Regions from separate parts of the Homo sapiens genome. Here region 1 is reported to be linked to region 2. The links are microRNA targets in miRTarBase. Many come from high-throughput screens and were not tested one by one. Region 2 holds a microRNA gene; the other region holds the end of a gene's coding sequence.

Region 1 (5,391 bases), not on the chromosome of region 2:
GACTCAAGCGATTCTTCTGCCTCAGCCTCTCAAGCAGCTGGGACCACAGATGTGTGCCACCACACATGGCTATGTTGCCCAGGCAGGTCTTAAACTCCTGGACTCAAGCAGTCCTCTCCCCTTGGCCTCCCAAAGTGCTGCGATTACAGGTGTGAGCCACTGTTCCAGCCCTGAGGTTCTTGATAGTCTAGGTAGAGAGGAAAATTAAAGAAGTTATGTGGAAAACATACATTCTTTAGGAGAGTTTTTCCTGGCACCAAATAAATATTCATCCCACAGAGTTAGAGGGATATTGAGTACTGGACTTGATTATGTCCTTGACCCCAGTACTAAATTTGTGAACTTGGACAAGTTATTTAACCTATCATGTATAAATGTATTAACATACTGTATGTTTACTTTTAGTCACTTTTGAGATTGATAAAAAGTGCTGAATAAAGTGTTTTGGGAAGTGCCTTTTTCATTCAATCCTGTACACCTAAAACTTGTTTATAACAACTAGTTTATTCATATTCATCTCTGTAATATTCCATTGTGTGATTATATCACAATTCATCCTTTCTCCTGTCAATGGGCATTTAGGTTGCTTCCAGGGTTTTCGCTATTGCAAATGGCTGTGGTATAAAAATTCCTGTATAGCTCTCCTGACACTCAAGCGTACTTCCCCTCCAATAACCTGGATTGTAGATTCTAGCTGTTTCAGCAGCCGGAAACCTCCACTCCGCCTCCTCAGTTCAGCAATACCACCATTCTGAGCCGCATTCCTTGCACCATGGTTGGGAATGTCCTCCCATGGAGACAGACATGGTGAACCTGGGATTCACCTTGTGTATTTCCTTTCTTTTAGATATCAGTCTGCTTTGACTAGTATCCAATTCCTGAAAACAGTTGCTTCATATATTTTGTCCAGCATTAACTGTTGTTTGGGGTAGCAAGATAAGTCCACTTAAAATTATAGCCGGAAGTGGAAGTCTATTCATCCCTATTTTCTATTCAAATATTTAGTTTTGTTTCGGTTAGTTAATTCTTAATACAGCTGTGGTTTATTTGCTCAAACCAAAAGCCCAAGAGAAATTTCATTTAAAGGTAATTTGAAGGATACAATATCTTAGATATTCTTCAAGATGCACTTATCACATCACAGTTTCATAATGCTCAACACTTCTTAAAGTGCTTTCACATGGAATAATTTTCACGTACCTAAACTATTGGCCTATTAGGTATCTGGCTTTCTGGTGAGGTACTTGTCATGTTTTCCATTGAATTATATATGGATTTTTTTCCCAATTATGTCCAGAAATGAAATATATTCCAAGATCCCTATGAGAAACTTAAGAAATAAAGAAACTCCCATTTATTCTAGTCTGGTGCTGTCACTTTTTCAAATTTCTTAGCCTACTTCTACAGCAGCTAAGAATTGGGAGATATGACAATAGACAGGTCAGTTGAGAGAAAGTTTCCCAAATCAATACAGCCACTTACTTGAATCTGTTAGCAACCGTATCTTCTCTTGAGATGTGTTTTGTACAAGGTGCTATGGACTATTTCTAATTTCATTGTGGTAGGCTTCCCTTCTCTTCATTTTTCTCCACTTAACCTGATCTGTCAGGTTGTAAACAAATTTGATTTGAAGGCATGTTTGCTTCTAATAGGCAATTCTATAGTACAGCCAAGAAGGCAATTCTATATACAGCCAAGAAGGATATATGTTGCTGGGGTAATTTTTTATAATTAAAAAAAGTATAAACTTAAAAAATTGGTATACATAGGCAAACAGGTAAAAATAAACCTTTGTTTCCTTCCAACAGATACATAAGCTCTGAGTATTCTAAGCATGTGTAACAGAATGCTAAGCAACAGTCAAGCACATACTCAACTAATAACTATGGTCTATAATATTTTAGGTATTGTGTGTCTTGTAAATAGTAAAATCAAGTAATTCTTTCAAATGTGCAGTGTTTAGATTTGAAATGATTACAAGCACCAAAAAAACCCATGAATTAAAATACAATATTTTATTTTTGTCACCTAAAAAACAAGCAACCCAGAATTAAGATATACGTAAGTTTCTCAAATTTATCCTAATAAAATTTTGAATATTTATACAATTTCTACAGAAACATACAGTGTATCAAAATCTGCATAAATCAAATTTATAAAATGTGTAGAAATGCATAGTGATATTACCAACTTACAAAGCAAGGATATGGGAATTATTTCCAAAGCAGCCTACAGTAGAAAATAGTCATTATGGCAGCAGCTTCTGATGTTTTTGTTTGGTAGGTTTTCTGATTTCAATATATAGAATCATATTCATAGAGTATCTTCTTTTAACGAATTGCACAAAGTACCCATTTAAAATTTACATGCACAGTTCATTGCCACCTTTCTTAGGCCTATGCATAGTTAATAAGGTTATAATCTACTCAACATGGAAAATGGAGCCTATTTGCAAACACACAAGTAATTAAAGTACCAATTCTCTCTTAGTTTCTTTTTTTATAGTTGGTTTATTTTGCAATTATAAATGTTAAACATCCCTAGAGATGAAAGTTAAAATGGTTGATCACAGATCAGTAGCAAAATACAAATTGACAATTCAAAATTATAAATAAAACTCTGTTGAGGATGTTTAACTTTGAGTCTCCAAATTTAAGAGCTAAGCTTGGAAGAAACAAATTTATAGGTTATATTTCCCTCTTAAATTAAAAAACAAACTTCCTCTGGCAGTAGTTTGTGAATTCCTTTCATTGTAATGATACCATGATTACAGGATCAAAAATGCTTAACTTACTTGCCATTCTGCTCACATCATCACAGTTGTTTTTTTTTTTTTAAGCACTCAATGTAGGCATTTTAATCTTCTGGATAACAGAGTATCTTTTGAGAAATTAAAATCGAATTGACCATTTGCAATATTTGGTTTTCCTAATAGGTACTGTCTTAGTAAATGTTTAAATCCAAACAAATCTTCTGTTCACCGGAAAAATACTAATAAAAATACACTTTCTAAAAAGAAATTAAGAAACACTAGGGAACACCTAATGTAACAGAAAGTAGTTCACGTTTGTTAATAAACTGTATTTTTAAATAGTCCTTTGTTTTTAAATTTTAAAAACGTGCAGATAATGTCATTTGGATGAAAATATAAATGAAACATCAGTTCACTCTTGGCTTCACAGGTTGCACAGCTTAGGTTATAATGCACACAAGTTTTATAAGGCCTAATCTAACAAGGGCTTGGAAAGTCTTACCTCAGTCAGAATGAACCTTTGATGTGTTTATAACGGTGTTTTGTTGTTTTTGTCACCCTCGCTTTCAAGGGATAACAATAACAACTGATAATAGTTTTCTGTATTGGCAGGTATTGGAGAAAAGTAAATCCCAAATGTCAGTGGACAATTTTTCTCTAGTTGGAAGACTCCTTTGCAATCCTAGAAGTAGGTATGGACAGAGGGCACTGGGAATGCCAGTAGGTAAGGGAGTGAATGCTACACAACTTCCAACCCTATGGGACAGCCTTGGGATGTTCCATATTGTCATTTCTTTTTCAAGCCATACAAAGTTCAACTTTATAGCAAATGGCAGCACATAAATTCATTTCTGAGTAGTAAAAGTATTCCCCATACAGGTGACAAGTCCATCATTACCATCCTATAGATTTCATCACAAGCTCTTGAAATATATACTGAGAAATGAAAGAGGCACTAAATGTGTTGAAATTCACCTTTCAAAAAAGCAGCATGACTGTGAAGGAAGGCCACCTTGGCTAATAACCTGTGGCAGTGCTTCAAAAAGATGTAAAATTAAATAAAGACACAACAGGTTGATAATCACCAAGTTATATATGAAAGTCTGGCTACTCCAACCTTTTTTCAAGTGTGTTAAAAATAAAAATCAAACTGCCTTTCAGACCCCTGAGTGTAATCCCAAAGAAGACAACATGCTTTAACTCTGTCTAATAAAACAGAGCTAAAGGCACAAATTACCAACATCATCTTAAAACACAACAAAAAGATGTAAACATCTACAAAGTTTAAGGTAAAAGCAGTCTTGTAAACAGTAACTGCAGATGATAATGTTATTGTAAAATCACAGTTTATCAATGTCCTTCAAACTGATCAGGAGGTTCCAGGTTTGGAGCTATACAGAGTTAATAACAATAGTTGCAGCAGGTTTCAGGCGGTTTTCAGTCCTGTATAAATTTACTTGTCAGTAGGTAGGTTATTGGTTTATTTTTTTCTCTCTAAACACTATGGATGTTATTCATTTCCCATTTTTGAGTCGTTTTACTGGAGTCACAATTGGAGATGAATACTTGATGCAGGACCTCTGAGCGATCTAAACACTTTCCTGAAGGAATATGAGTAAATCTGTGCAGGTTCTGGAAAACACAGTAAGAAAAAAGTTTCAAATTTGGACCCTTGATATCACTGACATCAGAAATCATCACTTGACTTTCATGAGGAGACAGTTTAAGGAAATGGAAAAGCTTCTCAACCACACCTCAGACTTTGGATTTCTCTTGATTGTCAGTTTTCTGGATTTCTCTTGATTGTCAGTTTTCTAAGTCCTAAGATCTTTCATTGTTAAGTCACAATATACTGCTGGTATCTCACACTCAATGTATACAAACCTAAATTCATTATCTGCCCCTCCAAATCTATGTCTCTTGTTCCTATCCTGGCTAATGACATTCCCAGCTCTCTAGTCCTTAGGAAATACTGCACTTTTCCTCATTCACTCACATACCAGTCACTAAGGATGGATATGTGCAATGTCTCTGGTTTATATTCCTTCCCATCGCCACTGCAGATGCCCTGGTTTGGCCCTCACCATATGCTGTAGGTTTCTTCAATATAGCTCAGAGCTTCTCAAAGTCTGGTCCTCAGACTATCCAGGATTGGGTCTGTAAGGCCGAAACTATTTTCATCATAATACGAAGACACCATTGCCTTTTCACTTTAGCAACATTTATACCGATAGTGCAAAAGCAATGGTGAGTAAAACTGATGGTGCCTTAGCATGAATCAAACTATGCTAGTACCTATAGTTGTATTGCTCATGGCCACACACAGTTGAAAAGTAAATGCCGGTTTCACTTAAGGATGTCACTGATGAAGGAGCAAAACATTCGTTTTATTCAGTCTTGACCCCTCAGTATACTTAAAAAAAATTCTATGAGATGAAGTGGGAAGTACGTATCAAGTACTTCCATATAATGAGGTACAATGCTCAAGGATATCAGTCTACACTGGAAATAACTTTTAAGAAACTACCACTTAATTATTAAGTTGTGGTGTACAATAAAAAAACAGCCACAATTATATGAACGGCTATTAAAGTACTCGCTCCCTTTACAAACTGTATGCTTGTGTGGGGCTGGGTTTC
Region 2 (5,391 bases):
TTGAGGTGTTAAGGGATCTTTGGGGTATCAATTGGCCAGAAACCTCTGTGGCTGGTGGCACCTTTGCTGAGGTCTTGTCCTGTGTCCAGGAAGAATGAGGTACACAGACAAGTGTAGGGTAAACACGATGAAGAGGAGGTTTATTGAGTGTTAGAATGCTCAGAAGAGACCTGTGGTGGATAGCTCCTCTCTGCAGGCAGGTCATCTCGTTGAGTGTTCAGCTTTCAGCAGAGAGGAGGCCCTGGGGTCTGTGGCTCCTCTCTGCTGGCAGGTTGTCCCATTAAGGGTTCAGCTCTCAAGAGAGAGGAGGCTCTAGAGAGGGTAACTCCTCTCTGCAGCTGGTCATCCTTGTCCTGTCAGGGGTTCAGCTCTCAACAGAGAGGAGGCCCTGGAGATGGTAGTTCCTCTCTGCAGGTGGTCATCCCAATGTCTGCTGCTTTCAACAGAGAGGAGGCCCTGGAGAGGGTAGCTCCTCTCTGCAGCCAGTCATCCTGATGTCTGCTGCTTTCAACAGAGAGGAGGCTCTGGAGAAAGTTGCTCCTCTCTACAGGCAAGTCTTCCTCTCTTCTTCCCAGCTCTCAGCAGAGAGGATAGCTCCTCTCTGAAGTTGGTCATCCCATCATCTCTCCATCCTCTACCCTGCTTTAGCTGAGCCTGGGGCTTTTACGGATGTCAGAGGGGAGGAAGTGTGTGTCAGTTGGTCCATGGGTGGCCATGGGCAGGCCTGAAAGGCACTGCAAGTCCCCACTTTGATCTGCGGGACTTACTGCTCAGCCCCCAGCCTTCAGGCCATCCCTGGCCTAAAGGTAGGGCCTTACTAGGGATCCACTCCCTTCAATCCAGGAGCCTGTCTGCCTCCTGCTGCCATCCATGGTGCCTATGGTGCCCAGGCTGCTTGCACCAAAAGGCACCTGCAGGCCAGTGCCAAGCCACCCTCAGCCCTCCCCCTCAGTTTCTCCTCTCATGCTCATTTTGCCCAAATTCTGGAGGAGGCCGAGGTAGCAGGGTACTGGCATGTCAGCACTGCCCCAAGCATGTGCACACCTGGCCAGGCTGTGCCAGTGCCCAGGATAGGCCCCAACCTGGCTCCAAGATTGGAGTAGGGTGCCAGGAGTGGAGAGGCCAGGCAGCAGGAGCAGACACTCTAGAGCCTGTGGGGCCAGGGGGTTGGGGGGGACTTCTGAGGCCCCCAAGAGTGAAGACTGCAGAGACTCTCGGGTCCTGCGCTTGGGAGGGTGGCCACAGCTGCACCTAGGGAACTCCCGCCTTGCCAACTCAAAAGGGGTGGGGCTCCCACTTGTCACCAGCTCCTGCCTGCCTCACGGAGTGTGCAGCCCTGGGGTGGTGCCTCCCTGCTGCAGCCTGCATGATGGCAGCGGCCACTGCCAACAGAGGGAGGAACCTGGTGGGAGGTGATTGGATCAAGGGGGCCAGTTTCCCCCGTGCTGTTCTCGTGGTAGTGAGTGAATTCTCATGAGATCTGGTTGTTTGATAAGTGGCTCTTTCTCCTTCTTTCTCTCTCCCTCTCCTACTGCCTTTTGAAGATGTGCCTTGTTTCCCTTTTGCCTTCTGCCATGATTATAAGTTTCCTGAGGCTTTCCCTGTGAGTCCATTAAACCCCTTTCTTTATAAATTACTCAGTCTCAGGTAGTATCTTTATAGCAGTGTGAAAACAGACTAATACACAACTCAATACGAAAATGGGCAAAGTAACTTAAATAGACACTTAATGAAACAGGAAATCTGAATGTCTAGACTGAATATTCAGTTTCACCAGGGAAGTAAAGGAACTATTTGTATTTATTTGTATGATTATTTGTAACTTGGGAAATACAAATGAAATAGATATCATTATATGCCCATTACATTGTTAAAATTGAAAAAAAGTCTGATAAGATCAAGTGCTAGCAAAGGCATGGAGTAATAGGAACTTTTACACTGCTGGTGGCAGTTCTAAGTGATGAAATTTCTTTGGCATAAATTCAGCATTATCTAATAACATTAATAATGCACATACCCTGTGATCCAGAAATGTTACTAGGTCTATACCTTAGAGAACTTATATAGGTGCAGCAGTGGACACATCAAGAAAGCCCATGGTAACATGGCTTGTGAAAGCAGAACAATAAGCAATGTCCATCAATAGTATAATGATACAGCAAAATACAAAACAATAGTAGAATGATACAGCAACAAAACCAAAAAAATCCATCTGCATAGATAAAACTGAGGACAATAATCTTGGGTAAAAAAGCAAGCTATAGACAAGTTGCTGAGTAGGAGAAGATATTTTCAAATCACACACCTGAAAAGGACTAGAATCTTGATTATATAAGAGCTCTCAAAACTCAATGGTAAAAAGAAAACAAGTAATCTACTAGAACATGGGCAAAACACATGAATAGATATTCCATAGTGTAAGTTATTCAAATGGCAAAAAAAATCCATGAAATATGTTCAACATAAGGGTAATGCAAATTAAAACCATGATAACATATCACTATGCATCTATCAGAATTGCTAAAATAAAAAAAAAATGAGAACACCCAACATTGGCAAGGATGTAGAGAAATAGGCTTGTTCATATATTGTTGATGGGATGTAAAATTGTAGATCTAGCCTAGAAAACAGAGGGCAGCTAATTATAAAACCCAGCATGCCTATGACCCAGCAGTAGCGCCCTCAGGTGTTTATCCCAGGGAAATAAAAACTTATGTCCACACAAAAACCTGGGGAGCTTTATTTGCAATAGCCAAGTGTTCACAGCAGCTTTATTTGTAATAGTCGAATATACTACAGTTTGTTTAACCATTCAAATATACCACAGTTTGTTTAACCTTTTGCCTGTTGGTTGAAGATGCCTTTCAACAGGTGACTGGTTAGACAAACTGTGGTATATACACAGGATGGAATACTACTCAGCAATAAACAAGCAACAAGCTATTGATTACAAACAACTTGGATGAATCTTTGGGGAATTATTATGAGTGAAAAAAGTCAATGCCAAAGGCTACATATGTATGATTACATTTATATAACATTTTGAAATGACAAATGTTACAGATAGAGAAGGGATTAGTGGTTGTTGAGGGTTAAGAATGTGGTGAGGTGGAGGGAGGTGGTTATAAAGGCACAACATGAAGGATCCTCATGGTGATGGACTGGCTGATGTCTTGACTTTAGTGATGGACACACACACACACACACAGACCACAAATGATACAAGTAAATTGGAGAAATCTGGGTAAGACTGGTGAGCTGTATCATGTCAATATCCTGGTTATGATATTGTACTAGTGTTTTAAAAATGTTATTGTATTAGTCTCTTCTCATGCTGCTGATAAAGACATACCTGAGACTGGGTAGTTTATAAAGGAAAAGAGGTTTAATGGGTTTACAGTTTCACATGGCTGAGGAGGCCTCACAATCATGGCAGAAGGTGAAAGGCACGTCTTACATGGTGGCAGATATGAGAGAAATGAGAACCAAGTGAAAGGGGTTTCCCCTTATAAAACCATCAGACCTTGTGAGACTTATTCACTACCATGAGAACAGTATGGGGGAAACCACCCCCGTGATTCAATAATCTCCCCCTGGGTCCCTCCCACAACACGTGGGAATTATGGGAGCTACAACTCAAGATGAGATTTGGGTGGGGACACAGCCAGACCATATCAGTTACCACTGGGGGAAACTGGATAAATGGTACACAGAATTGCATATGAATTTATAATTATCTCAATAACAAATTCTAATTAAAAATTATTAACTCTTTCACTCAAAAATTTCAGAAACAAATTTATCATAGCTTTGACTTGGCTACAAAAACCCCAAGCCATACAAACCTACATAACTGCAAGATTCTAGTCTTAGAGATCAAAAACGTATTAAACAATATATTGTTCAGGATATAAGGTGATAAAGAAAAAAAACATTGGAGAATGAATTCAGATTAGCATTTCTCTGGGTTACGAAGAGAGGCAATCAGATCAAAGAGGTCATGCTTGATGGTCACGCTTTCATTTCTAAACTGGATGGTGGGATACACGAATGTTCCCTTTATTGTTATTCTTTGTACAGCAGACATGTTTTATAAATATCTTTTGTACCCACTCAGTATTTAATGAAACCTTGTAGAAAGTCTTTGGTGTGTGTTGGTGTATATGTTGTGTGTGTATTTGTATTTGGCAATGTATGTTTCCACCTCCTGAGCCTGGCAAGCTCTTTCCTGCCACAGGACCTTTGCACTTGCTATAACCTCTTCTGAGAACTCTCCTTCTTTGGTTCTTCAAAGATTGTGGTCCCACCTCAGCTCAGGCAAGTGAAGTGAAGAGACTTTCAGATCAATGCGTATGCATCCTGAATGGTCTTGTTTGTTGATTCATGTATCTGCCTCTTCTGACTAGAATGTAAGTTCCCTGACGTCAGAGAGCTCCTCTAACTTATTCAACCATTACCTAGACGTGGGTTGACAGACTGAACGAATGCATATTTATGCATATGAATTTAGGGTCTAAAAAAAGCATGCCAATTGAAAGTGTTGGCTTCCTAAGAATTTCTTTGGGCTACTGACTATTTTACTCTTTAATAGTATCATGGTAAACTGGGGGTTAAATTGCTTTTGCAATTATTGAAGGTCTGAGTGAAGGGAGTTACGTAGAATAACAAGGGGCATGTCTTTGAAGGACACAGGTAACAGCAAAGAACAAGTTTAAAAGAGTTAAACACATTCTAGCTAAAGAGGGAATAAGTTTAAATTGGGTTATTTTCCCTGGAGATTATTGCAATTTTAAGAGTAATGCTGCTTCCAAGAATGTTAGCTTTTCTCTTGGTGACCATGGATATAACAGTGTGTGGGTCCGTCATTAATCAGGATAAGGCATTACAGATCTGGGTCCTATTACCCTAAGTTTGTTTGTAAAATGGATTTCTTTGCAGGCAGCACTGACGTGTGACCATGTGATGTTTGGATTGTGCTTCAGAGCAGGGGATGGCTTGGCAAAGGCCTTTGCGGTTTATAACCTATTTTATTTTCTACAATTGAATTTTGAATTTTGAAGTCCAATCAATTTGAGTTCTTTACAAGTATAATTTGGTTACCCATGGGATGGTTTGAATTTAAGTTTCATGGAAGTAAGTTTGCATGCATTTTGGTCTTTTTAAATTAATTCTCATTGGAAACGTTTCATTATTCTGAAATGTTTGGTGATAGTAATTGTGAGGCTAGAACTGCTTGTTCATAAATAGGGTTATTATTGGATCTCCTCATGCCTTGATTGATTTATGATGAAGAAGACACACCTGTAGCATAATGCTCTTTTTTTGGTGGTGATTTCAAGTACAATCACTATGAAATGTAAAACCAGGATACAGAAGTAGAGAATTTAGTTC

What was found. Region 2 holds the annotated microRNA hsa-miR-552-5p (GUUUAACCUUUUGCCUGUUGG, at 2,831-2,851, shown strand). A microRNA usually pairs through its seed, bases 2 to 8, with sites in the 3' UTR of a target mRNA and lowers its output. Matches are read on the target gene's strand: a 7mer-m8 pairs with bases 2 to 8, a 7mer-A1 pairs with bases 2 to 7 and ends in A, and an 8mer does both.
Region 1: the mRNA of GALNT7 is a reported target of hsa-miR-552-5p. Seed matches in the 3' UTR shown: 7mer-A1 at 2,329-2,335.

What each region holds. Positions count from the first base shown.
Region 1 is chr4:173,320,573-173,325,963 of GRCh38, reverse strand. GALNT7 (polypeptide N-acetylgalactosaminyltransferase 7) reads right to left here. Exons shown (of 12, transcript NM_017423.3): 12 at 1,997-4,384. The coding sequence ends at 4,247. Among named protein-coding and RNA genes, the nearest start is that of HMGB2, 11 kb to the left of the region's middle.
Region 2 is chr1:34,667,110-34,672,500 of GRCh38, reverse strand. It overlaps MIR552 (microRNA 552), which reads left to right and starts at 2,807; the gene lies at 2,807-2,902. All of the region lies in intron 1 of LOC105378641 (a long non-coding RNA gene), which reads left to right.